2 separate regions of the Homo sapiens genome follow, and region 2 is linked to region 1. Evidence: fine-mapped expression QTL. A gene starts in region 1. The other region holds a variant in brackets. All regions are shown on one strand. Distances are from middle to middle.

What was found.
Region 2: its variant is fine-mapped to the expression of ABCG2 in testis (GTEx, PIP 0.99).

The regions. Positions count from the first base shown.
Region 1 is chr4:88,150,673-88,166,673 of GRCh38, reverse strand. ABCG2 (ATP binding cassette subfamily G member 2 (JR blood group)) reads left to right here and starts at 8,035. Exons shown (of 16, transcript NM_004827.3): 1 at 8,035-8,288. It overlaps LOC124900867, which reads left to right and starts at 7,118. Exons shown (of 2, transcript XM_047416558.1): 1 at 7,118-7,204; 2 at 7,592-8,288. The coding sequence starts at 7,118. The coding sequence ends at 8,101. It also overlaps the pseudogene RPL31P24. RefSeq lists silencers at 3,683-3,977, 7,749-7,968.
Region 2 is chr4:88,198,684-88,214,684 of GRCh38, reverse strand. It overlaps a transcript of ABCG2 not described here, the pseudogene RNU6-818P and the pseudogene RNU6ATAC31P. Among named protein-coding and RNA genes, the nearest start is that of ABCG2, 48 kb to the right of the region's middle. The variant C/T (reference allele first, on the strand shown) is at 8,498.

The sequences.
Region 1 (16,001 bases):
GAAAGCCATGCCCATTTGCAGCTTTCAAACCACTGTTTACAGAGTCCCATCCCAAGTAGTAGGGGCCTTGGTGTTGCTGTGCGAGCTCTATGTCTCATATTAGTGTTGGGAGGAAAAACTTCCTCTGCCAACTTAGGTCCAGTGCTTGGGGGCCTGTAAATTAATTGGCAATAGATGGATTAACAGGAGAATAGACAAGGTTTATTTACACTTACTCAGGTGAAGAGGCTCTCTGTACAGTTAGGGATGAGAATTTATATGCCAATAATATGGGAAAAGGGAGGAGGAGAGAAAGGGTTCTATGGGAAAGCAAATATACTTTTGTGGAAAGACAAATGGGCTTTTAGGGAAACAAATGATGGTACGACAATTTGTGATTATGTTCGGTTATGCAATTCGTCATTCAGGTGCAAGTGGTCTCCTTCCTGGCAGTAAAGTCTCCTTACTGGCAGTGAAGCTCCCCAAGAGGGAATTTATGGCAGCTTCACTCTCTGAAAGCTCTGGCTTTAGTCAAATAAGGGAAGCTCCAGAAAGGCTTCTTTCTGTATCTGCTGTGTCTTAAATGTTTCAGTTTAAAATACTCTTCATACCAACTCAGTGGGTGCCAGTGGGTCCCTCCATTAGCATCCTCTTCCATTTCCTTGGGGCCTTGTGGTGAGCAGAAAAATGGCCTCTCAAAGGTGTCCATGTCTTATTCCCTAGAATGTGAATGATAGGTTACTTTAGCAAAGGAGAATTAAGGTTCCAGATGAAATGAAGATTGTTAATCTAATGATTTTCTCTCTCTCTTTTTTTTTTTTGAGATGGAGTCTCACTCTGTTGCCCAGGCTGGAGTGCAGTGGCACAATCTTGGCTCACCACAACCTCCGCCTCCCGGGTTCAAGCGATTCTCCTGCCTCAGCCTCCCGAGTAGCTGGGACTACAGGCGCATGCCACCATGCCCGCTTAATTTTTGTATTTTTAGTAGAGACAGTGTTTCACTATGTTGGCCAGGCTGGTCTTGAACTCCTGACCTCGTAATCCACCCGCCTCGGCCTCCCAAAGTGCTGAGATTACAGGCGTGAGCCTGCCCAGATGAATGTACCTGGCCCAAATAACTTTAAAATAGGGAGATTATCCTGGCTTACCCAGTGGGCCTATTGTAATAACAATACTTAAAGGTGGAAGAGGGAGGCAGAAGAAAATCAAAGATGTGATGACAGAAGCAGGGTCACAGGGCTGCTATGCTGCTGGCTTTGAAGATGGAGAAAGAGGCCAAGAGCCAAGGAATGCAGGTGGCCTCTACAAGATTGAAAAGGTTCCAGAAAGGAACACAGACCTGCTGACATTTTGATTTTAGACCACTAGACCCATTTTAGACTTCTGACCCATAGAAATGTAATATACTTGTGTTGTCTTAAACCACTAAGTTTGTGGCTATTTGTTATGGCAGCAATAGAAAACGAATAGAAGTCTATTCAAATATTCATCATTTTTCCAAATCCCAAATCAGCCATTCACACCCATACCCTCAGCACATCCATCAACTTCAGAGAGAAAGTATAGTTATGGGCCAGATATTTATTTCAATTTTCTCTAATTAAAACATTTACCTCGGCCAGATGTGGTGGCTCACACCTATAATCCCAGCACTTTGGGAGTCCAAGGCAGGCAGATCCCTTCGAGGCCAGGAGTTCAAGACCAGCTGAGGCAACATGGTGAGACCCCATCTCTACTAAAAATACAAAAGTTAGCCAGGCATGGTGATGCATGCCTGTAATCCCAGCTACTTGGGAGGCTGAGGCAGGAGAATTGCTTGAACCCAGGAGGTGGAGGTTGTGGCGAGCTGAGATTGTGCCACTGCACTCCAGCCTGGGCAACAGAGTGAGACTCTGTCTCAAAAACAAACAACAACAACAACAAAAAATCCATTTACCTCCATGAGGATACATCCAACTTCCTTCCCTTTTGTTACAATTTTTTAAAAAGTTTCTGTATTAGTCTGTTCTCATGCTGCTAATAAAGACATACCCGAGACTGGGTAATTTATAAAGGAAAGAGGTTAATTGACTCACAGTTCAGCCTGGCTAGGGAGGCCTCAGGAAACTTACAATCATGGCAGAAGGGGAAGCAAACACATCCTTCTTCACATGGCGGCAGGAAGGAGAAGTGCCGAGCAAAAGGGGAAAAGCCCCTTATGAAACCATCAGAGCGCGTGAGAACTCACTATCAGAACAGCAGCATAGGAATAATTACCCCTGTGATTCGATTACCTCCCACCAGGTCCCTCCCGCAACACGTGGGGATTATGGGAAGTACAATTCAAGATGGGCTGGGAGCCGTAGCTCACGCCTGTAATCCTAGTACTTTGGGAGGCCGAGGTGGTGGATCACCTGAGGTCAAGAGTTCGAGACCAGCCTGGCCAACATGGCAAAACCCTGTCTCTACTAAAAATACAAAAATTACCAGGCATGGTGGCAAGTGCTTGTAATCCCAGCTACTCAGGAGGCTGAGGCAGTAGAATCGCTTGAACCCGCAAGGCAGAGGTTGCAGTGAGCTGAGATCACACCATTGCACTCTAGCCTGGGTGACAGAGCAAGACTCCGTCTCAAAAAAAAAAAAGGTGAGATTTGGGTAGGGACACAGCAAAACCATATCAATTTCCTTTTTAAAAAAAATATATAAAGGCAATTTTATAACTTATTTGATGTATTTGATGCTCAGTGGTTAGTTCTCATCCACATTGACTATCTGCAGATTTTTGAAAATGGTAACAAGTATATAGGTAACCAGGAATGTAACAAAATATAGAGCTTGTTTGGTGATTCTTTACCCTCATTACATTTTCTGAACAACTGCACACAGATGCGGTATGGAACATTCCTTATTCCTTTGGCCCAGACAGCTTTGTTGAACCTGGTATTAACACACACATCTGGAGTTCCCATCTCCTTCATGGCAAATTTCCGGATCTCTCTGAGTGCCCCAGGGACACACTTCTTGAAGCCCACTCTATGAATGCGCTTGTGAATGCTGATGGCTTATTCTTGGGTCACTACCTCGTTTATGGCAGAATAGCCCTTCTTCTTCTCGCCGCTTTTCTTTGCAGGAGCCATTCTGCCTGGCCCAATTTGGAAAAGAAGAGCGTGAGGGATTCTTAAGTTTCCTTTTCTTTTCTAATTCTAATTCCTCTGGATCCCATTTCATTATGCTTCCTAAGGGACCTGACACTACCAATAACCCTTTCTTTCTTTATGGCTTGTCCTCTTGGCATGCACACATGTTCTAGTCTGTCTAATTCAAACCAAATGAATATTTTCTCTGAACCCTAAGATAGCCTCTAGCTATATTCCTTTCTCTCACCTTCCTTTTATACTGAAATCTTTAGGAAGAGTTTTAAACTGTTTCCATTATTTTATTTACAATAACTGTTTGCACCATTATAGACTGAACTTTCTCTTGCCATATTAGTCAAAGGCCCTGATAGCTGTGAGCTGGGCTGTGGGGGAATACTGTGCACATAGCCTCTCTTCCACTGTTATTTTCTTAACTTGGAGTGGTAATGAAAATAGATATACTCGGACTGAATACATCTGTTATATATGTAACCCAAATGTCCCCAGGCCCATGGTGAATCCTGTCTGAAACCTGACCTTGCCAGGGAAAATTGACAATTCTGGAGTTCACCTTTGGAGTAAGCACTAAGAAATGTAGCATACTGGGGCCTTACCAGCTCTTTGCAACTGGTGCACAGGCATTCAGCAGGAGTCTCAATATGGGGCCTTATAAATACTGGGCAGTGACTCTTGCCTGGTAAAATAAAAGAAAGGTCCTGTGGTGGAGGGCAGAGGGCAATGGCTTGGAAGGCTGTGAGTCACTTAACCTTTAACCTTGTGCAAATCAGTCTCCTTTGCACTGGTGACTTATCTGTAAAATGAGGAAAGTCATCTAACATCTGACCTAATGAGGAAGGTCCTTTTTCTCTAAAATTCTATGGCTAGCTCCAAAAACAATGCTAACTTACAAGTTAAAATGACTCATTTCTATACAGTGCAATACATTTATAAAATGCTGGCTTTAATCTGAACTTATCAAATAGAATTTGATAAAATATTAGGATGAGGTTAGGAACTAATAAAACTTTATTTTGAATTTTTATTTGATTTACCACTGCCTCCCAATGTAACTTTAGTTAGCAAATAAACCGACCTATAAATATGAAACATCACAATCTAAAATATTTTTAAAATTAGACTAAAATTAAGGAAACTTTTTTTTAGTTTTAGTCCTATTTCAAGTGAGGACTCTATTGTCATGTGTCTTTATATGTATATTTTATCAGTTTATTTTACTTTTAAAATCCATTTTTCATTATAAAATTTATAATTTTCTAAATTTGTTACATAAAATTTAGAAAATTACACTAAAATACAAGATAAAAGACATTCCATGTTACTACCCAGAACAAATGAACACTTTCCTGCTATTTTCTTTCTTTCTCTTTTTCTTTAGAGTGGGGTCTCACTCTGATCATGGCTCGCTGCAGCCTTGAACCCCGGGGCTCAAGCAATCCTTCCACCTCAGCCCCCCAAATAGCTAGGTCCACAGGCATGTGCCATCACATCCAGCTAATTTTTAAAAAATTGTTTGTACAAATTTACAAGAAAAAAACAAACAACCCCATCAAAAAGTGGGCGAAGGACATGAACAGACACTTCTCAAAAGAAGACATTTATGCAGCCAAAAAACACATGAAGAAATGCTCATCATCACTGGCCATCAGAGAAATGCAAATCAAAACCACTATGAGATATCATCTCACACCAGTTAGAATGGCAATCATTAAAAAGTCAGGAAACAACAGGTGCTGGAGAGGATGTGGAGAAATAGGAACACTTTTACACTGTTGGTGGGACTGTAAACTAGTTCAACCATTGTGGAAGTCGGTGTGGCGATTCCTCAGGGATCTAGAACTAGAAATACCATTTGACCCAGCCATCCCATTACTGGGTATATACCCAAAGGACTATAAATCATGCTGCTATAAAGACACATGCACACGTATGTTTATTGCGGCACTATTCACAATAGCAAAGACTTGGAACCAACCCAAATGTCCAACAATGATAGACTGGATTAAGAAAATGTGGCACATATACACCATGGAATACTATGCAGCCATAAAAAATGATGAGTTCATGTCCTTTGTAGGGACATGGATGAAATTGGAAACCATCATTCTCAGTAAACTATCGCAAGAACAAAAAACCAAACACCGCATATTCTCACTCATAGGTGGGAATTGAACAATGAGATCACTTGGACACAGGAAGGGGAATATCACACTCTGGGGACTGTGGTGGGGTCGGGGGAGGGGGGAGGGATAGCATTGGGAGATATACCTAATGCTAGATGACACGTTAGTGGGTGCAGCGCACCAGCATGGCACATGTATACATATGTAACTAACCTGCACAATGTGCACATGTACCCTAAAACTTAGAGTATAATAAAAAAAAAAAAAATTAAAAAAAAAAATTGTTTGTAGAGACAGGGGCTCCCTGTGTTGCCTAGGCTTGTCTCGAATTCTTGGGCTCAAGCAATCCTCTGGCCTCCTCCCAAAGTGCTGGGATTACAGGTGTAAGCCACCACACCCAGTGTAATTTAAAATATTTTTTTTTTGTAGAGATAGGGTCTCAGTATGTTGCCCAGGCTGGTCTTGAACTCCTGGGCTCAAGCAATTCTTTGGCCTCTGCCTCCCAAAGTGTTGGGATTACAGGAGTGAGCTGTCACTCCTTGCCCAGCAATTTTCTATGTATAGGTTTTTTTTTTTTTTTTTTTTTTTTGAGATGGAGTCTCACGTTGTCACCCAGGCTAGAGTGCAGTGACATGATCTTGGCTCACTGCAGCCTCTGCCTCCCTGGCTCCAGCAATTCTCCTGCCTCAGCCTCCTGGGTAGCTGGGATTACAGGCATGAGCCACCATGCCCGGCTAATTTTTGTATTTTTAGTAGAGAAGGGTTTCACCATGTTGGCCAGGCTGCTCTTGAAGTCCTGATATCAGGTGATCCACCTGCCTCGGCCTCCCAAAGTACTAGGATTACAGGCGTGAGCCACCGTGCCTGGCCTCTATGTATAGGGTTTTGATTTGTTTTTACTTTGCATAATTACAGAATGCTATATTCAACTAAGTATCCATTTTTAAAAATGTGCTTCATATCAGTTTCGTGTGTGTTTTCTCCATTTTTGTTCAGTCTCCTCCTGTAGTGCCTTCAGATCTTGCTGGAAATGTTTTCATTTTTTCTGGTATCATAAAATTTTATTCTTTTCACTTATCTGGGTGAGCTAAAAAGAAAATTAAAATAAAATTTATTTTTCGGAGATTTTTCAGTTTTTGCAAACAGTCGTTAACGGCCAGGTCTGAAAACTTTATCTTAATTTTTTTTTTTTTCTTGAGACAGAGTCTCACTCTGTGGCCCAGGCTGGAGTGCAGTGGTGGGATCTCGGGTCATTTGCAACCTCTGCCTCCTGTGTTCAAGCGCTTCTTGTTCCTTAGCCTCGCGAGTAGCTGGGATTACAGCCTCGCCACCACACCCAGCTAACTTTTGTATTTTTAGTAGAGGCAGGGTTTCACCATGTTGGCCAGGCTGGTCTCGAACTCCTGGCCTCAAGTGATCTGCCTGCGTCAGCCTCCCAAAGTGCTGGGATTACAGGCATGAGCCACCGTGCTGGCCTTAATTTTGTCTTAAAATGAAGTATGACTAACATGTATTTCTATATGGGCCTTTAAGGGTCTTGAAACTGACAGAAATTAATTCAAAAGAATAATTTTACCCAAATGTTTGGGCGCATCATGAATATATACCTTAAAATTCTTTTAAAAAGCATGCGGTATGGTATATTTAAAATTCTTTTTAAAAAATTATGTATAGTCAATTTTCTTATCTAGGCTTCCTAGCTAAAACTTTCCTGCATTGGGTGAACCATTAATAGTTATTCCTAGTGTTGATTTAAACAACTTAAATGATACTATGATTTTTGTTTGTAAATGCAAACCAGAAAATATCTGCATGCAGGTACTAATTTCCTAGGGTAGATGCAGCAGGTAGATGTTGGGATGGCTACACTCACAAAGCCTGATGGCCCGTTTCCTGAACATGCGCAATCACTTTCTAGCCTTTCCACACCATCGGAATATTGCACAGAAGTATGTCAGTCACAGGAGTGTAAAGAATAACATTTAAACTATGGTAATATTTTCATTCAGTAAGTTTCTCCCCTTTCCTTCCTTGGGTTAGATTCAGTGCCTGATTTTTTTAGGCCCTGGGGCGCAAGCATCCACTTTCTCAGAATCCCATTCACCAGAAACCACCCATTTAACTTGCTCTGGGTGCGAGCAGCGCTTGTGACTGGGCAACCTGTGCGTCAGCGTCCCCGGTGCTTCGGCGCTCCGGCCAGTGACGGCGACCAAACCCAGCTAGGTCAGACGAGGTACTGATCAGCCCAATGAGCGCCTGGTGATTCTCGTAGTTAATCACTCTGGTTCATTCCGTTCGATCCCGGAGGCGGGAGTGTTTGGCTTGTCCCTGCGTGTCACGGCAGGGTGACCCTAGCCCCGAGGGAGGGCGGTGGTACCAGTCCTGCTGGCGGCTCAGCGCGGCAGGACACGTGTGCGCTTTCAGCCGGGTCGCAGGGCGCTTATCGCGGCCCGGCAGTCGGGGCCACGCCTCACCCCCGCCCGCGAACCCCGACCTGGGGAAACCCGGGGCGCTGGGGAGGGGCCACTGCGTTCAGCTCTGGCGGTCCACAGCCCGAAGCGCGGCTTAGGAAGTTCGTGTCAGCGCTGCCTGAGCTCGTCCCCTGGATGTCCGGGTCTCCCCAGGCGGCCACCCGCCGGCTCCCATCGTGACCTCCAGCCGCAGCGCCTCCCACGCCGGCCGCCGCGCGAGGGGAGCGCTCGGGCGCGCCGGGTGTGGTTGGGGGAAGGGGTTGTGCCGCGCGCGGGCTGCGTGCTGTGCCCACTCAAAAGGTTCCGGGCGCGCAGGAGGGAAGAGGCAGTGCCCGCCACTCCCACTGAGATTGAGAGACGCGGCAAGGAGGCAGCCTGTGGAGGAACTGGGTAGGATTTAGGAACGCACCGTGCACATGCTTGGTGGTCTTGTTAAGTGGAAACTGCTGCTTTAGAGTTTGTTTGGAAGGTCCGGGTGACTCATCCCAACATTTACATCCTTAATTGTTAAAGCGCTGCCTCCGAGCGCACGCATCCTGAGATCCTGAGCCTTTGGTTAAGACCGAGCTCTATTAAGCTGAGTGAGTAAATTGTAAAACCAGTTTCGCTGAGAGTGTGTGTCTGGAAAGGTTGGTGGGCGTTGTGTATATATTTGTTAGAAAATCGGTAACCGTTCAAACGAGACGACTGAGTTTTTTAGCCTTTCGCAGTTTCATTTGAAAGTGGGTATGCAGTTTAAAACTGACAGTTCAAAGTGGTTTTTCAGAAAATGATGCCCTGGTGCAAACTGATTCTGGGTCCCATAGTGTGTTAAGTGTGGGTTGGTAAAAACTCTTGGCCTTTCTCCAAATGTATGAAATTAAAGTTGATATTGGAAGGATAAAAACCCACTGAGCACAGAAGTTACTATAGGTGGAGGAAACATTTGTTGATGTTAATATTTTAAAGGGGTTGACCAATATAGGAATTGGTCAATGACAATTGGGAATAGGTAAATGACAAATTATTGGTCAATCCCTTTAAAGCTTTGGATGGTTTGCTAAAGAATTATTGAACTCCCTTTTGTAATTTTCTGTGGATAGTTGAGTGCTCTTACTCCCTTCTCAGTCCTAGAGATATCCCCTAAAGCTTGGTTTTTAGGAGGATCTTACAGCTCTCTTATCATTTGAATGTCAGCTAGTCATAAATAAATACACCAGAGTAGTAAGGAAGAGATGTTTTTTATTGATATTCTTTACAAAACAGTGCTTTCAGAGTACAGCTTTGACTGGATTGTATAGATCTTGATGAGATCTTGATGAGAAAGGTTTCAACGACAAAGATGGCATGTTAAGTCTAACATTACCCTTCCATTATAAACATTGAAAGATGTTGGTTATTTTATTATTTATTTTATAATAACTTTTAATTGTGAAATAATTTGAGAGTTACTGAAAATTTGCAAAAAATAGTACAGAGAGTTCCCATAATATCATGCATAACAAGGGCCAAAACTAATAACATGGGCATGCTACTATAATACAATGAACTAAACTACAGACTTTATTTGGATTTCACTTGTCTTTCCACTGTCCTTTTTCTGCCCAGGATCCAATCGATGATCTCACTTTGCATTTAACTGCTAAATATCCTTAATTTTCTCTGATCTGTGACAGTTCCTCAGCCTTTCATTGTTTTTTCATGGACCTTGACACTAGTGAAGAAGACCCGGTCAGTTAATTTGTAGAATGCCCCTCAATTTGTGTTTGCTTGATGTTTAGTGTCATGATTAGATGAATGTTCTGCATTTTGGGGAAAAATGTCACAGAAGTAAAGTTTCCATCTCAGTATGTCATATTGGGTACATGATGTCAATACTTTTTTTTGAGACTGAGTCTTGCTTTATTGCCCAGACTGGAGTGCAGTGGCACGATCTCAGCTCATTGCAACCTTTGCCTCCCAGGTTCTAGCGATTCTCCTGCCTCAGCCTCCTGAGTAGCTGGGATTATAGGCGCCTGCCACCATGCCCAGATAATTTTTTGTATTTTTAGTAGAGACAGGTTTCATGTTGGCCAGGCTGGTCTCGAACTCCTGACCTCTAGTGATCCTCCTGCCTTGGCCTCCCAAAGTGCTGGGATTACAGGCGTGAGCCACTGTGCCCTAGCCGATACTTCTTATTACCTATGATGTTAATCTGTTTGCCAGATTCCCTTTGTATTTGAGATCTTGGGAGAGAAACCTGCACTGCCATTTTTCCTTAAACTTTTATTCATTAATTTAAGCATCCATTTGTGGAACATGTTGTTTAGCGGGTTTTTTTTCCTAATGGTTAAACAAAACCCCTATTTTCTTCCTTCTACATTTTTTAATTAAAATTCCCTTCTGTAGGGAAGAGTTGACCCTTCTCTCCTGTTCATTGATTCAGTTATTTGTATCAGTATGGGCTCATGGATATTTGTTTTGTTATATGGGTTATAATCCAATATTATCAGTATTTAATTTGCTGCTCAAATTGTTCTGGCTTTCACCACTGGGACCTTTTTCAGGTTGGCGCCTGTGCCACTTTGACATACACTTGCTTTTTCTTTTTCCTTCTTTTTTTTTTTTTTTTTTTTTTGAGACGGAGTCTTTGTCGCCCAGGCTGGAGTGCAGTGGCACGATCTCGGCTCACTGCACCCTCCGCCTCCCAGGCTCAAGCGATTCTTGTGCCTCAGCCTACCAAGTAGCTGGGATTACAGGTACGTAGCACCACACTTGGCTACTTTTTGTATTTTTTAGTAGAGACGGGGTTTTCCATGTTGGCCAGGCTGGTCTCAAACTCCTGGCCTCAAGTGATCTGCCCGCCTCGGCCTCCCAAAGTGCTGGGATTACAGGTGTGAGCTATCATGCCCGGACTCTTTTTCTTTTTTAATGCATTTCTTGATTTCTGGCATCAGAGAATGCTCAGGCTTATTTTGTATTTTCCATGTCCCAACCTTGGAATGATCCATTTCTCCAAGGCACTGTGATTATTTTGCTTTAGAATGGTATTAGAAGCTAATATCTGGACACTGGATGTTCTATTAGAGTTACTTCTTTTTTTTTTTGAGATGGAGTCTTGCTCCAGGCCAGAGTGCAATGGTGGGATCTCAGCTGACTGCAACCTCCTCCGCTTCCTGGGTTCAAGCAATTCTCCTGCCTCAGCCTCCTGAGTAGCAGGGATTACAGGCATGTGCCACCACGCCCAGCTAATTTTTAATGTTTTTAGTAAAGACGAGGTTTTGCCATGTTGGCCAGGCTGGTCTCGAACTCCTGACTTTGGGTGATCCACCCGCCTCGGCCTCCCCAAGTGCTGGGAATACAGGCATGAGCCACCGTGCCCGGCCTAGAGTTACTTTTGAACTTTTTATGTATAATAAAAAGTTTGTGACTTAGCAAATGCTAAGTCTGAAAAGATTGGTGTCAGGCCTCTGAGCCCAAGCTAAGCCATCATATCCTCTGTGACCTACACTTACACATCCAGATGGCTGGTTCCTGCCTTAACTGATGACATTACCTTGTGAAATTCCTCCTTCTGGCTCATCCTGGCTCTGTACTGCCTCAAGGCTTCACAGACAGCCCCCATTACTTCAGTCAAACCCAAATTTCTTCCTCATCTGTTACCTATCTTGTCATAATTCTTCATAAAAACACACGTGCTCTCCCTGCCAATCGTGTCTGACTGATCTCTCAAACCCCAACACCTTCTACAAAACAACTCCTTTCCTTCCTAGGCATGGTTGGATACTTTCGACTTTGGATACCTGGTTTCGCCATCCTAACAAAGCCATTATATAAACTCACAAAAGGAAACCTAGCTGACCCCATAGATCCTAAATCCTTTCCCCACTCCTCTTTCCATTCCTTCAAGACAGCTTTAGAGACTGCCCCCCACCCTAGCTCTCCCTGACTCATCCCAACCCTTTTCATTACACACAGCCGAAGTGCAGGGCTGTGCAGTCAGAATTCTTACACAAGGACCAGGATCGCGTCCTGTAGCCTTTTTGTCCAAACAACTTGACCTTACTGTTTTAGCCTAGCCATCATGTCTCCGTGCAGTGGCTGCCGCCGCCCTAATACTTTTAGAGGCCCTCAAAATCACAAACTATGCTCAACTCACTCTCTACAGCTCTCATAACTTCCAAAATCTATTTTCTTCCTCACACCTGACACATATACTTTCTGCTCCCCGGCTCCTCCAGCTATACTCACTCTTTGTTGCGTCTCCCACAATTACCATTGTTCCTGGCCCAGACTTCAATCCGGCCTCCCACATTATTCCTGATACCACACCTGACCCCCATGACTATCTCTCTGATCCACCGGGCATTCACCCCATTTCCGCATATTTCCTTCTTTCCTGTTCCTCACCCTGAACACTTGGTTTACTGATGGCAGTTCCACCAGTCCTAATTGCCACTCACCAGCAAAGGCAGGCTATGCTATAGTATCTTCCACATCTATCATTGAGGCTACCACTCTGCCCCCCTCCACTACCGCTCAGCAAGCCGAACTCATTGCCTGAAGTCAAGCCCTTGCTCTTGCAAAGGGACTACACATCAATATTTATACTGACTCTAAATATGCCTTCCATATCCTGCACCACTATGCAAGAGGTTTCCTCACTACACAAGGGTCCTCTATCATTAATGCTTCTTTAATAAAAACGCTTCTCAAAGCCGCTTTACTTCCAAAGGAAGCTGGAGTCATTCACTGCAAGGGCCATCAAAAAGGTATCATATCCCATCGCTCAGGACAATGCTTATGCTGATAAGTTAGCTAAAAAAGCAACTAGTGTTCCAACTTCTGTCCCTCAGGGTCAGTTTTTCTTCTTCGCATTGGTCACTCCCACCTACTCCCCCACTGAAACTTCCACCTATCAATCTCTTCCCACACAAAGCAAATGGTTCTTAGACCAAGGAAAATATCTCCTTCCAGCCTCACAGGCCCATTCTATTCTGTCATCATTTCATAACCTCTTCCATGTAGGTTACAAGCCGCTAGCCTGCCTCTTAGAACATTTCCTTTCCATCGTGGAAATCTGTCCTCAAGGAAATCACTTCTCAGTGTTCCATCTGCTATTCTACTACTCCTCAGGAATTTCTCATGCCCCCTCCCTTCCCTACACATCAAGCTCGGGGTTTTGCTCCTGCCCAGGACTGGCAAATTAGCTTTACTCACATGCCCCGAGTCAGGAAACTAAAATACTTCTTGGTCTGGGTAGACACTTTCACTGGATAGGTAGAGGCCTTTCCCACAGGGTCTGAGAAGGCCACGACGGTCATATCTTCCCTTCTGTCAGACATAATTCCTTGGTTTGGCCTTCCCACCTCTATACGGTTCAATAGAGGACCGGCCTTTATTAGTCAAATCAGCCAAGCAGTTTTTCGGGCTCTTGGTATTCAGTGAAACATTTATATCCCTTACCATCCTCAATCTTCAGGAAAGGTAGAACGGACTACTGGTCTTTTAAAAACACACCTCACCAAGCTCAGCCACCAACTTAAAAAGGACTGGATAATACTTTTACCACTTGCCCTTCTCAGAATTCGGGCCTGTCTTCGGAATGCGACAAAATACAGCCCATTTGAGCTCCTGTATAGATGCTCCTTTTTATTAGGCCCCAGTCTCATTCCAGACACCAGACCAACTTGGACTGCGCCCCCAAAAACTTGTCATCCCTACTATCTTCTGTCTAGTCATACTCCTATTCACCATTCTCAACTACTCATACATGCCCGCTCTTGTTTACACTGCCGGTTTACACTGTTTCTCCAAGCCACCACAGCTGATATCTCCTGGTGCTATCCCCAAACCGCCACTCTCAACTCTTAAAGTAAATAAATCATCTTTGCTGGCAGGGCTATGCTGAACCTCCTTAGGCACTCTCTAATTGGATGTCCTGGGTCCTCCCAATTCTTAGTCCTTTAATACCTGTTTTTCTCCTTGTCTTATTCCGTTCTTTTTTCAATTCATACAAAATTGTATCCAGGCCATCACCAATACTTATATAGGACAATTGTTTCTTCTAACAACCCCACAATATCACCCCTTACCACAAAATCTTCCTTCAGCTTAATCTCTCCCACTTTAGGTTCCCACGCCGCCCCTAATCCCACTTGAAGCAGCCCTGAGAAACATCACCCATTCTCTCTCCATACCACCCCCCAAAAATTTTCACCACCCCAACACTTTACCACTATTTTGTTTTATTTTTCTTATTAATATAAGAAGACAGGAATGTCAGGCCTCTGAGCCCAAGCTAAGCCATCATATCCCCTGTGACCTGCACATATACATCCAGATGGTTGGTTCCTGCCTTAACTGATGACATTCCACCACAAAAGAACTGAAAATGGCCTGTTCCTGCCTTAACTGATGACATTACCTTGTGAAATTCCTTCTCCTGGCTCATTCTGGCTCAAAAGCTCCCCCGCTGAGCACCCTGTGACGCCCCACCCCTGCCCACCAGAGAACAAACCCCCTTTACCCTTTACCTACCCAAATCTTATGAAATGGCCCCATCCCTATCTCCCTTTGCTGACTTTCTTTTCGGACTCAGCCCGCCTGCATCCAGGTGATTAAAAAGCTTTATTGCTCACACGAAGCCTGTTTGGTGGTCTCTTCACACGGACGCGAGTGAAAATTCATATTGCCTTAAAGTTTAAACATTATAGAGGACCTGACTGTATTTGCCAACTTGGATTCAGTCTCTTATGGGAAAGAAGTAAAATTGGTAGTATTTAGTAATTTTTTAAAGCTCCCATTTTTTTCTCAAATGAAACCCTGCCAGTGCTTCCAAAACAAATAATGCATATGTGAGCTTCTATCTATTAGGCTCTGGTAAGAAACCAGGATCATTTTATTAGCTGAGTAGCTTAAACTACATCCTAATATTATAATTTTGGTATCTGTTGATTGAATTCACAGTGAGAAAAGGATTTGAGACCCATATTTATGTTAGTCATACTAGCAATGAAGAAGTACTGTGTTTATGATGAGACATTATTTGGTCTGAGATGGTAACTGTACCCGTGGATTAGAGAGAGGATCCCTTGCAATAATTAATGAGCCCTTCTATGATTTTGGAGTACACACACATTACATGCTCCTTCTTTTATATCTTTGTATACTGGATCATGATGTTTTTTATTGTAGGTCTCAGAATTTTGAGAAGTAATGCCGCTGCTCACATTTAATTTTCTGTTAATAATTCTTTTTTTTTTTTTTTGAGATGGAGTCTCACTCTGTCGCCCAGGCTGGAGTGCAGTGGCGCCATCTCGGCTCACTGCAAGCTCCACCTCCCGGGTTCACGCCATTCTCCTGCCTCAGCCTCCCCAGCAGCTGGGACTACCGGCGCCCCTCCACCACGCCCAGCTACTTTTTTGTATTTTTAGTAGAGATGGGGTTTCACCGTGTTAGCCAGGATGGTCTTGATCTCCTGACCTCGTGATCCACCTGCCTCGGCCTCCCAAAGTGCTGGGATTACAGGCATGAGCCACTGCACCCAGCCTCTGTTCATAATTTTTACTGCAATTCCGATGATTGAATTATAAACTGGAAGGGAGCAGGGATATTGATCTTCATGTAGTTGACATGTACTAGACTCACGGAGAACAAGGACTGGGTTGTAGGCACAATGCTGTGTGGTTTTGGGTAAATCTAACTCACACTCAACTTGATTTTGTTTCCCCCTGGGGACTTAGGATCCCAAAATGTTCTAATGACCCACCTCACTGCTGCTAATCTTCCCACAGTGCCAATTTGGTGGAGTCAACCTTGCAAAGGGAGAAGAGAAAGGGTGATGACTTTCCCAGAGCTTCTGCCGCTGTCCTCCCTATGTCTTCTAGCCCCAGTCACTACTCCTTTTATTTAAATTCATAGGGGCTTCTCAGTCAGTCCCCTCTTAAATGTAAATGAGTTATTCACTTCCTGTGGGCCTGAAGCTGAACCACTGTCATTTATTTTTGACCTTGTTTTCCCAGTTTGGGCAGTGTAAGAGGAGGTCAGGAAATGGAATTGTTTGGGGCAGGCGATTTTGCAGAACATGCACAGATAATAGGTTTCAGGGAGCTCTCATAGGCTATGGAGGGAGGGGTGCAGGACAGTGTCCTCATCTTGGCTCTTGATATTATTATGGTGGACTCTTATGTGGTCTCCCTGCATTGTCCCTACCCATGACCAAAGTCAGAGTGATCCTTTAAACCAAGCTTGTCCAACGTGCATGTGGCCCAAGATGGCTTTGAATGAAGCCCAACACAAATTAGTAAACTTTCTTAAAACATTATGTGATTTTT
Region 2 (16,001 bases), 48 kb before region 1:
GGGATCTTTGTTGCCCAAGCTGGTCTTGAACTCCTGGGCTCAAGTGATCCTCCTGCCTCAGCCTACGGAAGTGCCAGGATTACAGGCAGGACCCACCACACCTGGCTCAACTCTCTTAGTATATAGATTCTGTCTTCTCCTAGAGAAGACCTGCACTGCTCTCTCTGGCATATTGTTCCAGTTATCTATCCCTACCTAACAAACCACTCTAAAACTTAAAGGCTTAAAACAATTTGTCATGTGTCTCATCGTTCTGATTGGAGTGGATTTGAGAGAGAATGGGGGAGGGATTGGAGAAGTGAGTATCTTTTGAAGAGTTTTGTTGTAAAAGAGAACAAAACGATAGAGCAGTAGTTGGAAGATGTGGAATCAAGAGGAATATTTTTGAGGATGGGGGAAATAGATAACAGTGGGCTAGTGGTGGTAATCCCAGCACTTTGGGAAGCTGAGGCGGGTACACTGCTGGAGCCCGAGTTTGAGACCAGCCTGGGCAACATAGCAAGACCTTGTCTCTACAAAAAATACAGAAATTAGCCAGGCATGGTTGTATGCGCCTGTAGTCCCACTTACTTAGGAGGCTGAGGTAGGAGGACCACTTGAGCCCAGGAGTTCAAGGCTTCAGTAAGCTATGATTGCACCACTGCACTCTAACCTGGGCGACAGAATGAGACTCTGTCTCAAAAAAAAAAAAAAAAAAAAAAAGGCCGGGCGTGGTGGCTCATGGCTGTAATCCCAGCACTTTGGGAGGCTGAAGTGGGCACAGATCACAAGGTCAGGAGATCAAGACCATCCTTGCCAACATGGTGAAACCCCATCTCTACTAAAATACAAAAAATTAGCTGGGCACGGTGGCAGGTGCCTATAGTCCCAGCTACTCCGGAGGCTGAGGCAGGGGAATCGCTTGAATCCGGGAGGCGGAGGTTGAAGTGAGCCAAGATCGCACCACTGCACTCTAGCCTGGAGACAGAGCAAGACTCTGTCTCAAAAACAAACAAAAAGAAATATAGCATGTTTATACTGTGGGGAAACAAATCAGTGGAGAGGAATATATATATATATTCACACACATATATATACATATATATACAATGATATAGAAGAGAAAGGGGAAAAGTGCTGTTATTGAGTTAGGAAAAAGGGGATGAGACTTCATGCAAAGTAGAGACATTGCCTTAGGCCTTAGTAACATGGGCAGTTCCTCTAGGGTAGGGTAATAGGAGAGAAGGCAGCAGATGCAGGTGGGTGGGCAGATACGGTGAACAGAATCTGAAGTTCTCTTTTACTTACTTCAGTTTTCTCAGTCAAGTAGGACATAAGGTTATCATCTGAGAATGACTATGGGAGGGGAAAGATGAAAATGTTTCGGTGTTGAAATAGGAAACAGAAGAGTGAATGGGCTAGGGAAGTACAGTATGAGTTGTCAGGCATTACTGAGGGTCCCGGCATTGAGATTCTTGATCAAGAATTTAAAATCAGATAATTACAGGTCTTTGTGGCTCAAGCCAGTAATCCCAACAGTTTGAAAGGCTAAAGTGGGAAGATTGCTTGAGCGCAGGAGTTTGAGACCAGCCTGGGCAATACAGTGAGACCCCGTCCCTACAAAGAATTTTTAAAAATTAGCTGGGTGCGGTGGCATTCATTGGTAGTCCCAGCTACTCAGGAGGCTGAGGTGGGAAGATCATTTGGGCCCCAGAGTTCAAAGGCTGAAGTGGGCTAAGATCTCGCCACTGCACTCTCCAGCCTGGGTAACAGGGCAAAACCCTGTCTCAAAAAAAATAAAAATTCAAACACAAAATCAAATAATTTATTATTCTTATGTGTTTTTCTCCACCCACGTTCAACTGCAGGGGTACAGGCACAGAGCAGGGGAGACAGGAATTTAAGTAGGGTTTGTGGTTTTGCCAAGCGAGTGACAAAGCAAAAGGGGAGCAGAGGAGCTGAGGGCATTTGCAAGGATGTAATTATAATGATCATGGAATTTCGGCAGGTATGGTGACTAAAGAAAGCAGTGAGGGGTGAGGCACAGTGAAATACTGGTGTAATTAATGGGTTTTAGGCCCTGGTGGAGCAAGGTCAAAGGTTTGCCGGAGTTGGGTTATTAGAGGGGTTTAGGTGGAAAGATAGACTATGCTTACAAGTTCTATGGCATGACCTGCAAGTACATAGGTAACGCAGGGTGGAGAACAAGATCACTGAAGGAGAGAAGTTCAAGGTAGTCAGAGGCCAGAGTGCTGGGGAGATCGTTTTCGGAGATACTGAATTCACCAAGAATTAAGACAGAAGTAGTGTCACAGAGAGTGACAGTACCAGGGGCTACAATTACTGATACAGGCGGGAGATGCTTCTGAAATCTGAAGATGGCAGCAACCATGCAGGGGTAGTCAGTGTTAAAGTGTAATGACATGAAATTCAAAGCTGAGATCTTCTGGGGAAAGTTATTAGATGATCCACTTTGGGATGTTCATATTTTTTGGTAGTCGCTCATCTCAGAATAAGCAATATCAGAAAGTGAAATTTTAATCACAAGAGGGCGCCAGAGTCCAGCAAATGATTACTTTTGGTTTTCACCTAAAGCTAGGGCAATCATACTTTTGAGAGAGGAAGAGGCCACTACTAATAATTATTTGGGGGCGGTATGTGTAAATTGGGACATAGACTCACACCTTCTCCTACACTATGTAAGCATGGGCAATTTAAGAATGAACTAGCTGTGCACCAAAAGCTCTAATTCCCATAAATCACTCGAAATGCTTTTGACTGCAATCAGGTAAGACAAAAATGGCCAAACTTGATTTTATCTGGAAGAGAGGCTTGAGAAAGACTTTCCCCTCTGGCCCACATCTCTAGTTCTATTTATTGCTTATCCCGTTTTTCCCTTTAGTGCAGTACCGGTTTGACTGTATCTTCAAGTTAAGAGAATTGCTGTATTCCCCAAAATATCTTGGTCATTTGAAAGTAAAGAGTTCTCGGCCGGGCACAGTGGCTCACGCCTGTAATCCCAGCACTTCAGAAGGCAAAGGTAAGCGGATCACGTGGTCAGGAGATCGAGCCCATCCTGGCTAACACAGTGAAACCCCGTCTCTACTTAAAATACAAAAAAATTACCCAGGTGTGGTGGTGTACTCCGGTAGTCCCAGCTACTCAGGTGTCTGAGGCAGAAGAATCACTTGAACCTGGGAGGCGGAGGTTGCAGTGAGCGGAGATCGCGCCATTGCACTCCAGCCTGGACAACAGAGTGAGACTCCATCTCAAAAAGAAAATTAAAACGAAAACATGATGATGGAAATAACAGACACTGGGGTCTCCAAAAGTGGGGGGGGGTGGGGCAGGGGTTGAACAATTACCTATCAGGTACAATGTTCACTATTTGGACATTGGGTACACTAGAAGCTCAGTCCCCACCAGTATGCAATCTGCTTATGTAACAAACAAGCACGTGCAACCCTGAATCTAAAATAAAATAATTTTTAAAATACACAATGAAAGTGGCTTTTGTTAAGTCCCCTGTTTAGCACATCCTCTCCTTAATTAGCCAAACTACTCTCTCTTCTTCTTTTACATATATATATATATTTTTTTTATTTTTTAATTTTTTTAGGGACCAAGCCTCTCTGTGTTGCCCAAGCTAGAGTGCAGTGGTTAATCCCTGGTGCAGTCACAGGGCACTACAGCCTCGAGTTCCTGGCCCCAAGAAATCCTCTCACCTCATTCTCCTGAGTAGCTGGGAATACAGGGGCAGAACATGGCATCTGCGCCTCTTCTTAACAAATGCAAATAAAATCAACTCTGGCTTCTGTTATTCCTTGAAAAAAATGTATGTATGGGTCAGGTGTGGTGGCTTATGCCTGTCATTCCAGCATTTTGGGAAGAAGCTAGGAGTTCGAGACCAGTGTGGGCAACAAAGCAAGACTGTCTCTATAAAATATTAGCCAGTTAATGGTGGCAAGTGCCTATATTCCCAGGTACTCAGGGGCTGAGGTGGGAGAATTGCTTGAACCTAGGAGTTTGAGGCTGCAGTGAGCTATGATTGTACCACTGCACTCCAGCCTGGGCAACAGAGCAAGATCCCATCTCTTAGAAAAAAAAAAAGAAAAGAAAAAGTATGTATTTATAGCTACCAGCACACTTTTAACTATATGGGGCTTATTTCTACCATTCTTTTTGTTTTAGAACAACATCCTTCATCCTCACTGAATGGGATGAATGTAAATAGGACCTCAAGAAAATAAGGCAAAGGTAAGGCTGCTGGGGAGAGCATTTCAAAATAAACTACAAATAGATTTTACAATTTATTTTACTCTCCTTCAACGAACACAAAAATATTGCATTACTAGCCAGGCACAATGGTGCCTGCCTCCAGTCCCAGCCACTGGAGGCTGAGGTGGGAAGGTTGCTTGAGCTCAGGAGTTCCAGTCCAGCTTAGGCAACATAGAGAGGCACTGTCTTAAACGTATATATGTATATGTGTGTGTGTGTGTGTGTGTGTGTGTGTGTGTGTGTAGGATTACTTACATTACTGACATCTTTAACCTAATTATATCTAATTCAATCAAAACATTTTATTACCAACTTATATGTGCATGAGCATTCTACACCTGTAGGAATACCCACAAGGTAATAGTCTTATACAGGATGCTTAGGGTGTTTTGTTTTGTTTTGTTTTATAGGACACATCTTTAAGATGCATTCAAAGAGTGATCTACCACTAGGGTACAAAAGCAAAAAACGTATTCAGTCAAAAATAACTGACAACTGGGGAAAATGGTGAATAGCAGAGAAGATTCTGTTTATTAGTTTTATCTTTAGGTTATCTTTGGCAAAGGAAAAGCACAGTATATTGCTACTACCACGTAGCTTGAATCTAAAACTTATCATTACTTATTATTTTATATAACATTGCCAACACCAACACAACCCCTGCTAATCAAACTGAAAAATTTTCTTTCACTTAAAATTTTTATTTTTTACTTATAGAAAGAGGTATGAACTTTGTTTTTTGTTTTTGTTTTGTTTTTTGTTTTTTTTTGAGACAGAGTCTTGCTCTCACCCAGCCAGGCTGGAGTGCAGTGGCATGACATCAGCTCACTGCAACCTCCGGCTCCCAGGTTCAAGCGATTCTTCTGCCTCCTGAGTAGCTGGGATTACAGGCGCTCACCACCACGCCTGGATAATTTTTGTATTTTAGTAGAGATGGGATTTCACCATGTTGGCCAGGCTGGTCTCAAACTCCTGACCTCAGGTGATCCATCTGCCTCAGCCTCTGAAAGTGCTGGGATTATAAGTGTGAGCCACCGCATCCGGTCTGAATTTTGTTTTTATTTATTTTGTTTTTTTTGGTGTTTCTTGTTTGCTTTTTTGTTTTTTTTTTTTTTTTTGAGATGGAGTCTCGCTCTGTCGCCCAGGCTGGAGTGCAGTGGTGCCATCTCTGCTCACTGCAAGCTCTGCCTCCCTGGTTCAAGTGATTCTTGTGCCTCAGTCTCCTGAGTAGCTAGAATTGTAGGTGTGTGCGACCACACTTAGCTAATTTTTGTATTTTTAGTAGAGACAGGGTTTCGCCATGTTGGCCAGGCTGGTATTGAACTGACCTCAGGTGATCCGACTGCCTCGGCCTCCCAAGGTGCTGAGATTATAGGCTTAAACCACTGCACCTGGCCAAGGTATGAACTGTTTTGTTTTGTTTTTTTTGAGACAGTCTCGCTCTGTCACCCAGGCTGGAGTGCAGTGGTGTGATCTCGCCTCACTGTAACCTCCGCCTCCCAGGTTAATTGGTTAAGACCAATTTTGTCAGTCCAATTTCAAATGTTATAATTAAATAAGTAATTTAGGCTTTTGATTTAAAGTTGCAATACCACAAGTTTGGAGAAAATAGTGGGACACTTGAAATAAGTTAGGTTGGCCATATTTATGGATTCAATTTATTTGCTTTGTCTGGGTTGATTGAGCACTTGGGAAAGTTCAGTTTTTTAAATTAAAAAATGGAAGTACCTTGGTATGCAGAAAAAAGTTAACAGAGCAGATCTGTTTGAGGCTGCTATCCCTAGAAAGCCCTGCTTTTGAGCTTGATTCTTAGGGAGCATCTGGAAGTTGCTTCACAGTGTCCCCAGTTATCAGTTAACTGATAAGGGTGGGTCACACACTTGCTTTCTTTCCTTCTGAGACTCTGTAATTTTGGTTTCAGAGTGTATCTACCCGACCAGCCCTCCTAAAAACCTTGGGCCCTAAGTCTCTAGTAGAGTTCCCTGGGCCAAAGTATTGCACAAATGTTGCATTTTCATTGCTAGGGGAAGTGTGTGCTCTGTGTGGCCCTTCATGGGAAGGCGAGAGCTTGAGGAAGCTTGCCCATGGATTTCTCCGACTCTCCCTATAGCTTACCCTTATCATCCAGCTATGTATCCTTGCAACATTGTTGTAATAGTAATAAATCTTAGCTATGAGTAGAATGATTATATATACTGAATTATGTAAATTGTTTCGGTGAATCTCTGAACATGGAGGTGGTCTAGGGCAATCCCAATGACACTCTAAAGAACTGGATGTTTTAAACTTCCAAGTACAGTTTAAAGTATTTGGAAATGTTTAATGAACTAAGATTGTAAATTGGACCAAACCATTATTGAGAGATTCCTTGGAAGTGAATACTGAAATTTGCTACACCTACTGATAGAGCAACAGTATTTGTAAACTGAATTTACAGCCCTAAGAAAAAGCAGAGTCTTAAATTTACAACTTTAGTTATCTTATATTGATTTCTAAAATTCACATGAACATTTGAATAGACTTTTCAGCCAACAAAAATATCCTTCATTGTGCCCTGACAGGGATATTGAAAAAAACAAAATGAGGTTGGGTGCGGTGGCTATGCCTGTAATTCCAGCACTTTGGGAGGCTCAGGTGGGAGGACTGTTTGAGCTCAGGAGTTCGAGACTAGCCTGCATAACATAGTGGGACCTCGTCTCTACTAAAAATAAAAAAATTAGCCAGGTATACTGGGGCATGCCTATAGTCTCACCTACTAGAGAGGCTGAGGCAGGAGGACTGCTTGAATGCAGGAGTTCGAGGCTGCAGTGAGCTGAGATTATGCCACTGCACTCCAGCTCTGGGTGACACAGCAAGACTCTGTCTGAAGAGAAGAAAAAGAAAAATATCCCTCGAGGAGATCAAAAAAGCTCAAATTTAATATATCTCAGCACCCAATAGCAGATTTCTTGTCCTCGAACAGAAAGACTTCTTTTCCAGTTGTCCACAGTTTCATATCACTAAGATTTCAGTTAAAAAGGAGACTAGGATGTAGACCTGTTTATGCCACGTCACAGGAAACCATATTATACCACTTTACAGAGTCTGCCTCTGATGATAATGTTAAAATGTTATTTAAAAAAAATCAGTAAGTAGGAAGTCCAATTGAACTCATGTAATAGCTGGTAACTCTGTAGTGTTAAAAGCCCAGAAAAAGTTAATAAAAGCTCGTCTTTCTAGTCTTTTAATATTCTTTAATGTTCTAGAGATTTCTCCATTGGATTATGAAGAGTGTGGCAGGGGTCTCAAGTAAAGCAGTAAATACTTGTTATGCATAAAAATGCACTGCTTTGAGACTGGGCACATTGGTTCACGCTTGTAATCCTAGCACTTCGGGAGGCCAAGGCGGGTGGATCACCTGAGGTCAGGAGTTGGAAAGCAGCCTGGCCAACATGGTGAAACCCCGTCTCTACTGAAAATACGCAAATTACCTGGGCTGTGGTGGTGAGAGATGAAGCTGGCTGGGCTTCTGGGTCGGGTGGGGACTTGGGGAACTTTTCTGTTAGCTAAAGGATTGTAAATGCACCAATCAGCGCTCTGTGTCTAGCTAAAGTTTTGTAAATGCACCAATCTATGGGACTATTGGGTTTGTTGTTTCAAGAATAAATGTTAAGAGCTCAAAGGAAGACGAGACCACTGTGGGCTAGAGTGGTAGTGAAGAAACACTTCATGGAGAAGGTGGGCCTGGATCTAGGTATTAAAATTAATACATTGGATTTAAAAATATGACAACGGGGAACGGCATGAGTAGCAAGTGTGTGAACGAAGGATGGAAGTGAGAAAATAAGAGGCATGATTATGAGATGCCTAGCTGTCTTAGAAAAGAAGAGTGGGGAGTGTTGTATGAAAGGACAGAAGGTTAACACTTCTCTTGACAAGGATGGAAGAGGCCCTCGGGCCTGACAACAAGCACACAGTTAAGGCATTGCCACCTACTTCATGGCATCCAACTATCATTTTTATTTTATTTTTTTCAATGAAACAACTACAAAAAAATTTTTAAAAAAAGAAGAAAAAGAGTGGAAAAAGGCTGTGTAGTATCAGGATGTGGTGGCCGTGCTTCTAAGGGTCAGGAGTTTGGACTTGATTCATTTATTTTTTTAAGACAGGGTCTTTCTGTATTGCCCAGGCTGGTGTTGAACTCCTGGCTTCAAGCAAAGCTCCCACCTTGGCCTCCCAAAATGCTGGGATTACAGGACAC[C/T]GCGCCTGGCCAGGACTTGATTCTTTCAGTTGGGAGAAGAACTAGCAGATTTTCAACAGGCAACAATATGAAGAAAGAGTTTGATAGTTCTAGAATAAAGATTATACTGGAGACAGGGTACAGGACAGTTTAGATTGGATTAGAGAACGAAGTATTGTCGGCAGAGACTAGCTTGGAAGACAGCCCAGATATAAAATGATAAATGGTGGCTGGGCGTGGTGGCTCACGCCTGTAATTCCAGCACTTTGGGAGGCCGAGGCAGGCGGATCATGAGGTCAAGAGATCGAGACCATCCTGGCCAACATGGGGAAACCCCATCTCTACTAAAAATACAAAAATTAGTCGGGTGTGGTGGCGTGCACCTGTGGTCCCAGCTACTCTGGGGGTTGATGCAGGAGAATTGCTTGAGCCCGGGAGGCAGAGGTTGCAGTGAGCTGAGATCGCGCCACTGCACTCCAGCCTGGGCGACAGAGCAAGACTCCGTCTCAAAAATAAATAAATAAATAAATAAATAAAAGATAAAATGATAAAGGGCTAAGATAAAGTAAGGTTAGAGGTTATGGAGAGAGACAGATTCCTCAAACATTGTAAAGGAAGAACTGATGGGACTGGTGACCACATGCAAAGGATAAGAGTAACTTTATGAAAGTGGAACAGAATGGTAAGTTTTCAGAATAAAGTGTACATCTATGGGTCATTTATATTATAGTTTTTATTTTTAATGCCAAGTTAGTTGGAGTCTGTGTGTATATAGAAAGGTAGTGTGAAAAGAAAAGTTTAGATCCCTACTTTTTCAGAGAAAACAACTTTCAAAACATAATTCAAAACATAATTGGAACACATATCTTAGAGGTTTAATGCTATGCATTTTAAGATTAAGATTAAGACTGTCCTGAGACTTGGAAGAGCAATCTGCTGGAGTGTTTGGAAGACTTTTCAATGATTTTGTAGGGAAAAGCCCAAGTACTAACATCTTTAGTGATTTCACCACACTGTGAAGTTCTCTGCCAGTGGAATTTGAAGGAAATAAAACTACAGGAATTCATTAGACATTTCCTAGTGTGCCCCTGTTGGTAGACGTACTTCAGGAAAAGGTGAACAGCTCCTAGCCAAAGAGGAAGCAGCTTTCAGAAAACAAAGCCAAGAGTAAGAATTGGCAGTACTCTCAAGACACTGAGCAAGTTGTTCAAGACAGTCTGGTCTTCCTGTTTTGTGGGATTTGCAAACATATTTTGCACTTAAATGGCAAATCTTTTGACAGCATAGGACTTTAGTTTCAAGTATATTTTTATACAAGTATATTTTATACACCTACTCTAATAATGAAATTCAAATATTCCCATCCTAATCCCCACTGCCTCCAAAACAATACAATTAATCCTTCTCTGATGGAGAGAATGACAAATTCCCTTCTGCCAAAAGCAACCAGTCTTCTTATTCCTTTAAAACACTGCCAACTATTTCCCTTTATTTTAAGGCAAAAGAACAAATAAAATAAAATGAAGCTTTCTTGCATTACCAAGTAAGGCTAACTGATCTAGGATCTAAAATATACTGAAGATGTGCAAAACTTGTGCATACACTTGGAATTATTGGCAACTGTGAGTGAGTATTTTATGCCTATGCTCTTGGTTATATTGAATATCTATAGCAAAGTTATTCTCCATGTCCAAATGGGACCCTAAACATATATCATCAATATTATATGCTCTGCAGCAGACAACTGCCTGGCTTGAATTCTTTTGTTTGTTTGTTTGTTTGTTTGTTTGAGATGGAGTCTTGCTCTGTCACCAGGCTGGAGTGCAGTGGCACGATCTCGGCTCACTGCAACCTGTACCTCCCAGGTTCAAGCGACTCTCCTGCCTCAGCCTCCCGAGTAGCTGGGACTACAGGCGCCTGTCACCACGCCCGGCTAATTTTTTGTATTTTTACTAGAGACGGGGTTTCACCATGTTGGCCGGGATATTCTCGATCTTTTGACCCCGTGATCTGCCCGCCTCAGCCTCCCAAAGAGCTGGGATTACAGGCATGAGCCACCAAGCCCGGCCGGCTTGAATTCTTTACAGCTGAGGTGTGTTAGGTCTTTGCAAAGCAAACAAAATCATTTCCTACTTGAAGAAAAGAAAACTAGAGAAATGGAAGAGGAAAGAGAAAATTTGCAAAGTGATCAAAAAGGAATAATTATATTTAAAGAGTTACCTTTTCTTTTAAAGTTTGGAGCTGGCATACCTTTGGTCCAGCTGTGGCTTTAAGATTTTCTGGTACAAAAGTAGAGAGTAAGTATTTCAGGGTAATCTGTAAAAAAAAAATATTGTGCCACTGGAATAATTTTATTCCGATAATATCAGAAAAATGTAGTTGCCTTTTGCCTTCTCATGTTTAAGGAAAGTCTTAAACATGAGTTTAAGTTTCTTTCTTTTTTTTTTTTTTTTTGAAACTGAGTTTCGCTGTTGTCACCCAGGCTGGAGTGCAATGGCACGATCTCAGCTCACTGCAACCTCTGCCTCCTGGGTTCAAGCGATTCTCCTGCCTCAGCCTCCCAAGTAGCTGGGATTACAGGCGCCCACCACCACGCCCAGCTAATTTTTGTATTTTTAGTAGGGACAGGGTTTCCCCATGTTGGCCAGGCTAGTCTCGAACTCGTGGCCTCAGGTGACCCAAACTGCGGGGATTAAAGGCATGAGCCACCGCGCCTGGCCTGAGTTTAAGTTTCTTAGGCAAAGCTCTCCAGTTATATTTAAGCTCCAATATTCGAACATTCTAATTAAACCTCTTTGAAGAAATAGTTCTACATGTTGTTAACTATGGAAACCAGCCATGACTGTCAGTTTGCTGGGGCCCTGGATCATTGAATTCAGCTACTAGAATCCACTTGTCATTAACAGTTTACAAAAGCAAAAAGAACAGGAGAGTATTCCTTTCTCTGGTCTTTCCCTCAGTTCTTTCATCTTTTCGCCTCATCCTCAATTCCATCCCCCACTCTCTTCTCACCTCTCCAGTTCTTAGTAATTTGCAATACAATGTTTTGAATTACCCTCAATGCTTTATTGGTTTTAAGTTGGAACCCCATTAAACTGGCATTGTGCTGAACACTAGTTTCATTAAATTAAAGTATAATTTGTGGCATAATAGCAGGCTAATAAAACATTTTTAATTAATTAATTTACATCTATTTAAATGGAAACCTACCCTATTAGTGTAAAGAATTTGGGTGGAAGGGAAAGAGAAAAGGTAAAGTACAGAAAGTTCTGTGCTACTAAACTACTGAAACAAATATTTCTAAAAATATAATCTCTCGAATTTATTTTCTTATTTATTTACTATTTTTAGAGACAGGGTCCCTCTCTGTTGACCTGGCTGGAGTGCAGTGGTGTGATCAAGGCTCACCGTAACCTCCAACTCCTGGGCTCCAGTGATCCTCCTGCTTTAGCCTCCTGAGTAGCTAGGATTACAGGTGTGTACTACTGAGACAGCCAAGTATAAAGGGGTCCCCGGAGAACCTCTGACCAGCCTGTACACTGGGAGAACGGGGTGGAGCCATGGGAAGTTTGAGCCCTTTGCAGTGGGGAGGAGCCTGGACGCTCCTGTTCCCGGGTGGTAACCTGTGATTCAATCTGTGAGGTGAGAGACCAGCTAGCAGAACTCTCACTTTGCTTAGAGTCTCTGTTTCCCCTTTCTCCTTTTCACGCAATAAATTCCATTTTTCTCACCTTTCAAAGTGTCTGCAAGCCTAATCTTTCCTGGTTGTGTGACAAGGACCTTAAGGAGAAAGTCCTACAACACTACCATGCCCAGCTAATTAAAATATACATATATATATATATATATATATAAATAATTGTAGAGATGGGGTCCTCCTATGTTGCACTGGTTGGTCTTGAGCTCCTGGCCTCAAGCAGTCCCCCTGCCTCGACCTCCCAAGGTGATGGGATTACAGATGTGAGTCATCACATAACGCCTAGACTCTCAAATTTCTTGGCCGAAAGTTGACATGGGGCATTATGGGACTTTATCCATTAGTAGCAGGTTGGATGGCAGCCCATGGAATAGTGCCATTGATAAGGCCCTTTGAGGTAAGCAAAATGATACTTCACCGATATTCATTTTGTGATCTTGGCTTCTAAGACCTCTCTTTAGATATTGCTGAATTTTAAATTGCTTGGGGAGCTTTAAAAAATCCCAAAGCCCTGCCACACTCATACCAATTAAATCAGAATTTCTTCCAGGAGACTCCAGTATGCAGATAGGTTGAGGACCAGTGCTTCTTAACACTTAATGTACATATGAATGACTTGTGGATCTTGATGAACTTGCAGGTTTTGAGTGTAGGCTTATGCTGAGGCACAAGATTCTGCATTTTTAAAAAATATGTTTTTATTAAATAGGGAACACTTCACAAATTTGTGTATTATCTTTGTGTAGGGCGCCGTGCTAATCTTCTCTGAATTGTTCCAATTTTAGTATATGTGCTCTCAAAGCAAGCACAGATATTGCATTTCTAACCAGCTCCCAGGTGAAGCCCACAATAGTCCTCCCTGGTCCTTGAGTAGCTAGGGAGTTAGGAAGTATTCCCTCTATTTCTGTCTCCTAAAAGAGATTACAAAGAACTGTACAGCTGCTTCTTTCAATGTTTGATATAATTTGCCAGTGAATCTATCTGGGGCTAGGGACTTTCTGTTTTGGAAGTTTATTAATTATTGATTCAATTTTTAAAATAATCCTGGGTCTTTACAGATTGTCTAATTTGTGTGTGTGAATTTTGGCAGATTGCATCTTTCAAGGAATTGGTCCATTTCATCTAGGTTATCAAATTCGTGAGAATAGTTTTGTTACTATCCTTTCAATGTCTGTGGGGTCTTTAAGTGATGTCCACTCTTTTTTTAAAAAAACTTTTACTGACAGGGCCAACCAGGTAATGTCTACTTTTTTTATTTCTGATATTAGTGATTATGTCCTCTCTCTTTTTTTTTTTTTTTTTGCAGTTAGTGCAACTGGAGACTTATAAATTTTATTGATCTTTTCAAATAACCGGCTTTTGTTTTTTTGTTAATTTTCTCTATTGATTTTCAGTTTCATGTTTTTTCTGATTTTTATTATTTCTTTTCTTCTGCTTAATTTGTCTTTAATTTACTCTTCTATTTCTAGTTTTCCAAGGTGGTAGTACACATTATTGATTTTGGATTTGTCTTTTTTTTCTAATATATGTTTCCAATGACATAAATTTCCCTTTTATTGCAATTGCTGCATCCCACAAATTTTGTTAATTATATTTTCATTTTTATTTAGTTCAAAATTTCTACATATACAATTGAGTATATTGTTGCTATTATTATTTTAACCAGTTATCTGTTAGATCAATTAAGAATAAGAAAAATAGGCTGGGCACGGTGGCTCACACCTGTAATCCTAGCACTTTGGGAGGCTGAGGCAGGTGGATCACCAGGTCAGGAGATTGAGACCACCCTGGCTAACATGGTAAAACCCTGTCTCTACTAAAAACACAAAAAATTAGCCAGGCGTGGTGACAGGCACCTGTAGTCCAAGCTACTTTGGAGGCTGAGGCATAGGAATGGCATGAACCCAGAAGGCAGACCTTGCAGTGAGCCAAGATCCCACCACTGCACATTAATGTTCTCCTTTCTTTATGTAGATTTCATTTTCTGACCTTTATTGATTTTCTGATCTTTAACAATTTTCTTCTCTTTGAAGAACATCTTTTGGCTACACATGGTGGCCAATGCCTGTAATCCCAGCACTTTGGGAGGCTGAGGTGGGAGGATCACTTGAGGCCAAGATTTCCAAACCAGGCTGGCCAACATAGTGAGACCCTGTCTCCAATTTTTTTGTTTGTTTGTTTTTTGAGACAGAGTCTCAGTCTGTTGCCCAGGTTGGAGTGCACAGGCATGATCAGGGCTCACTGCAGACTTGACCTCCCAGGCTCAAGTGATCCTCCCATCTCAGCCCCCCAAGTAGCTGGGACTACCAGTGTGTGCGTCACCACACCTGGCTGATTTTTTGTATTTTTAGTAGAGATGGGGTTTTGCCATGTTGCCCAGGCTGGTTTTGAATTCCTGAGCTCAAGTGATCTGCCCACTTCAGCCTCCCAAATTGCTGGGATTACAGGCATGAGCCACCATGCCGGGCCTTCTATTTAAAAAATAAAATAAAGTAAAATAACTTTTTTTTTGAGACGGAGTCTCGCTCTGTCGCCCAGGCTGGAGTGCAGTGGCGCGATCTTGCTCACTGCAAGCTCTGCCTGCCGGGTTCACGCCATTCTCCCGCCTCAGCCTCCCGGAGTAGTTGGGACCACAGGCACCCACGACCACGCCCGGCTAATCTTTTTTGTATTTTTAGTAGAGACGGGGTTTCACTGTGTTCGCCAGGATAGTCTCGATTTCCTGACCTTGTGATCCGCCCGCCTCAGCCTCCCAAAGTGCTGGGACCACAGGCGTAAGCCACTGCGCCCGGCCTAAATAAAGTAAAATAACTTTTAAAAAACATTTCTGCAAGACAAATGTACTGACAACAAATTCCTCTGACGTTTATTTGTCTGAGAAAGTCTATTTCTTCTTTAAATCTGAAGGGAAATTTCACAGTATACAGAATTCTAAGTTGGTGGTATTTTTCTACCAACATGTTAAATATACTGCATTCTCTTCCTGCTTGCATGGTTTCTAATAAGTCAGATGTAATTCTTATCTTTGTTTCTCTATAGTTAAGAATATTTTTCCCCTCTGACTTCATTGAAGATTTTTTCTTTATCTTTGATATTCTGTAGTTTGAATATGATATACCTATGTGTAATTTACTTAGGATTTATTCTTCCTGGTATTCTTCGAGTTTCCTGAATCTGTAGTTTGGTATCTAACATTAATTTGGGAGAAACTGTCAGTTCATAATTGCTTCAAATATTGTTTTTGGCCAGGCGCAGTGGCTCACGCCTGTAATTCCAGCACTTTGGGAGGCTGAGGTGGGTGGATCACCTGAGGTCAGGAGTTTGAGACCAGCCTGGCCAACATGGTGAAACCCCGTCTTTACTAAAAATGCAAAAATTAGTTGGGTGTGGTGGCAGGAGCCTGTAATCCCAGCTACTAGGGTGGCTGAGGCAGGAGAATCACTTGAATTCAGGAGGCAGAGCTTGCAGTGAGCTGAGATTGCGCCACTGCACTCCAGCCTGGGTGACACAGCGAGATTCTGTCTCAAAAATAAAATATATATATATATACACACACACATATATATACATATACATATATAGTTTTTGTTCCTTTCTCTCTTTCTGTATTTTTTATAATTGCCCCACAGTTCTTGAATATTTTGCTCCCCCTTTTTTGGGTCTTTTTTCTCTTTGCTTTTCAGTTTCTACTGGACATCCTCAAGCTCAGAGTATCTTTCTTCAGCTATGTTTAGTCAACCCGTAAGCTCATGAATGGCAATCTTCATAGTGTTTTTAATCTCTAGCATTTTTTTGACTCTTTCTCAGAATTTCCATCTGTCTTATTAC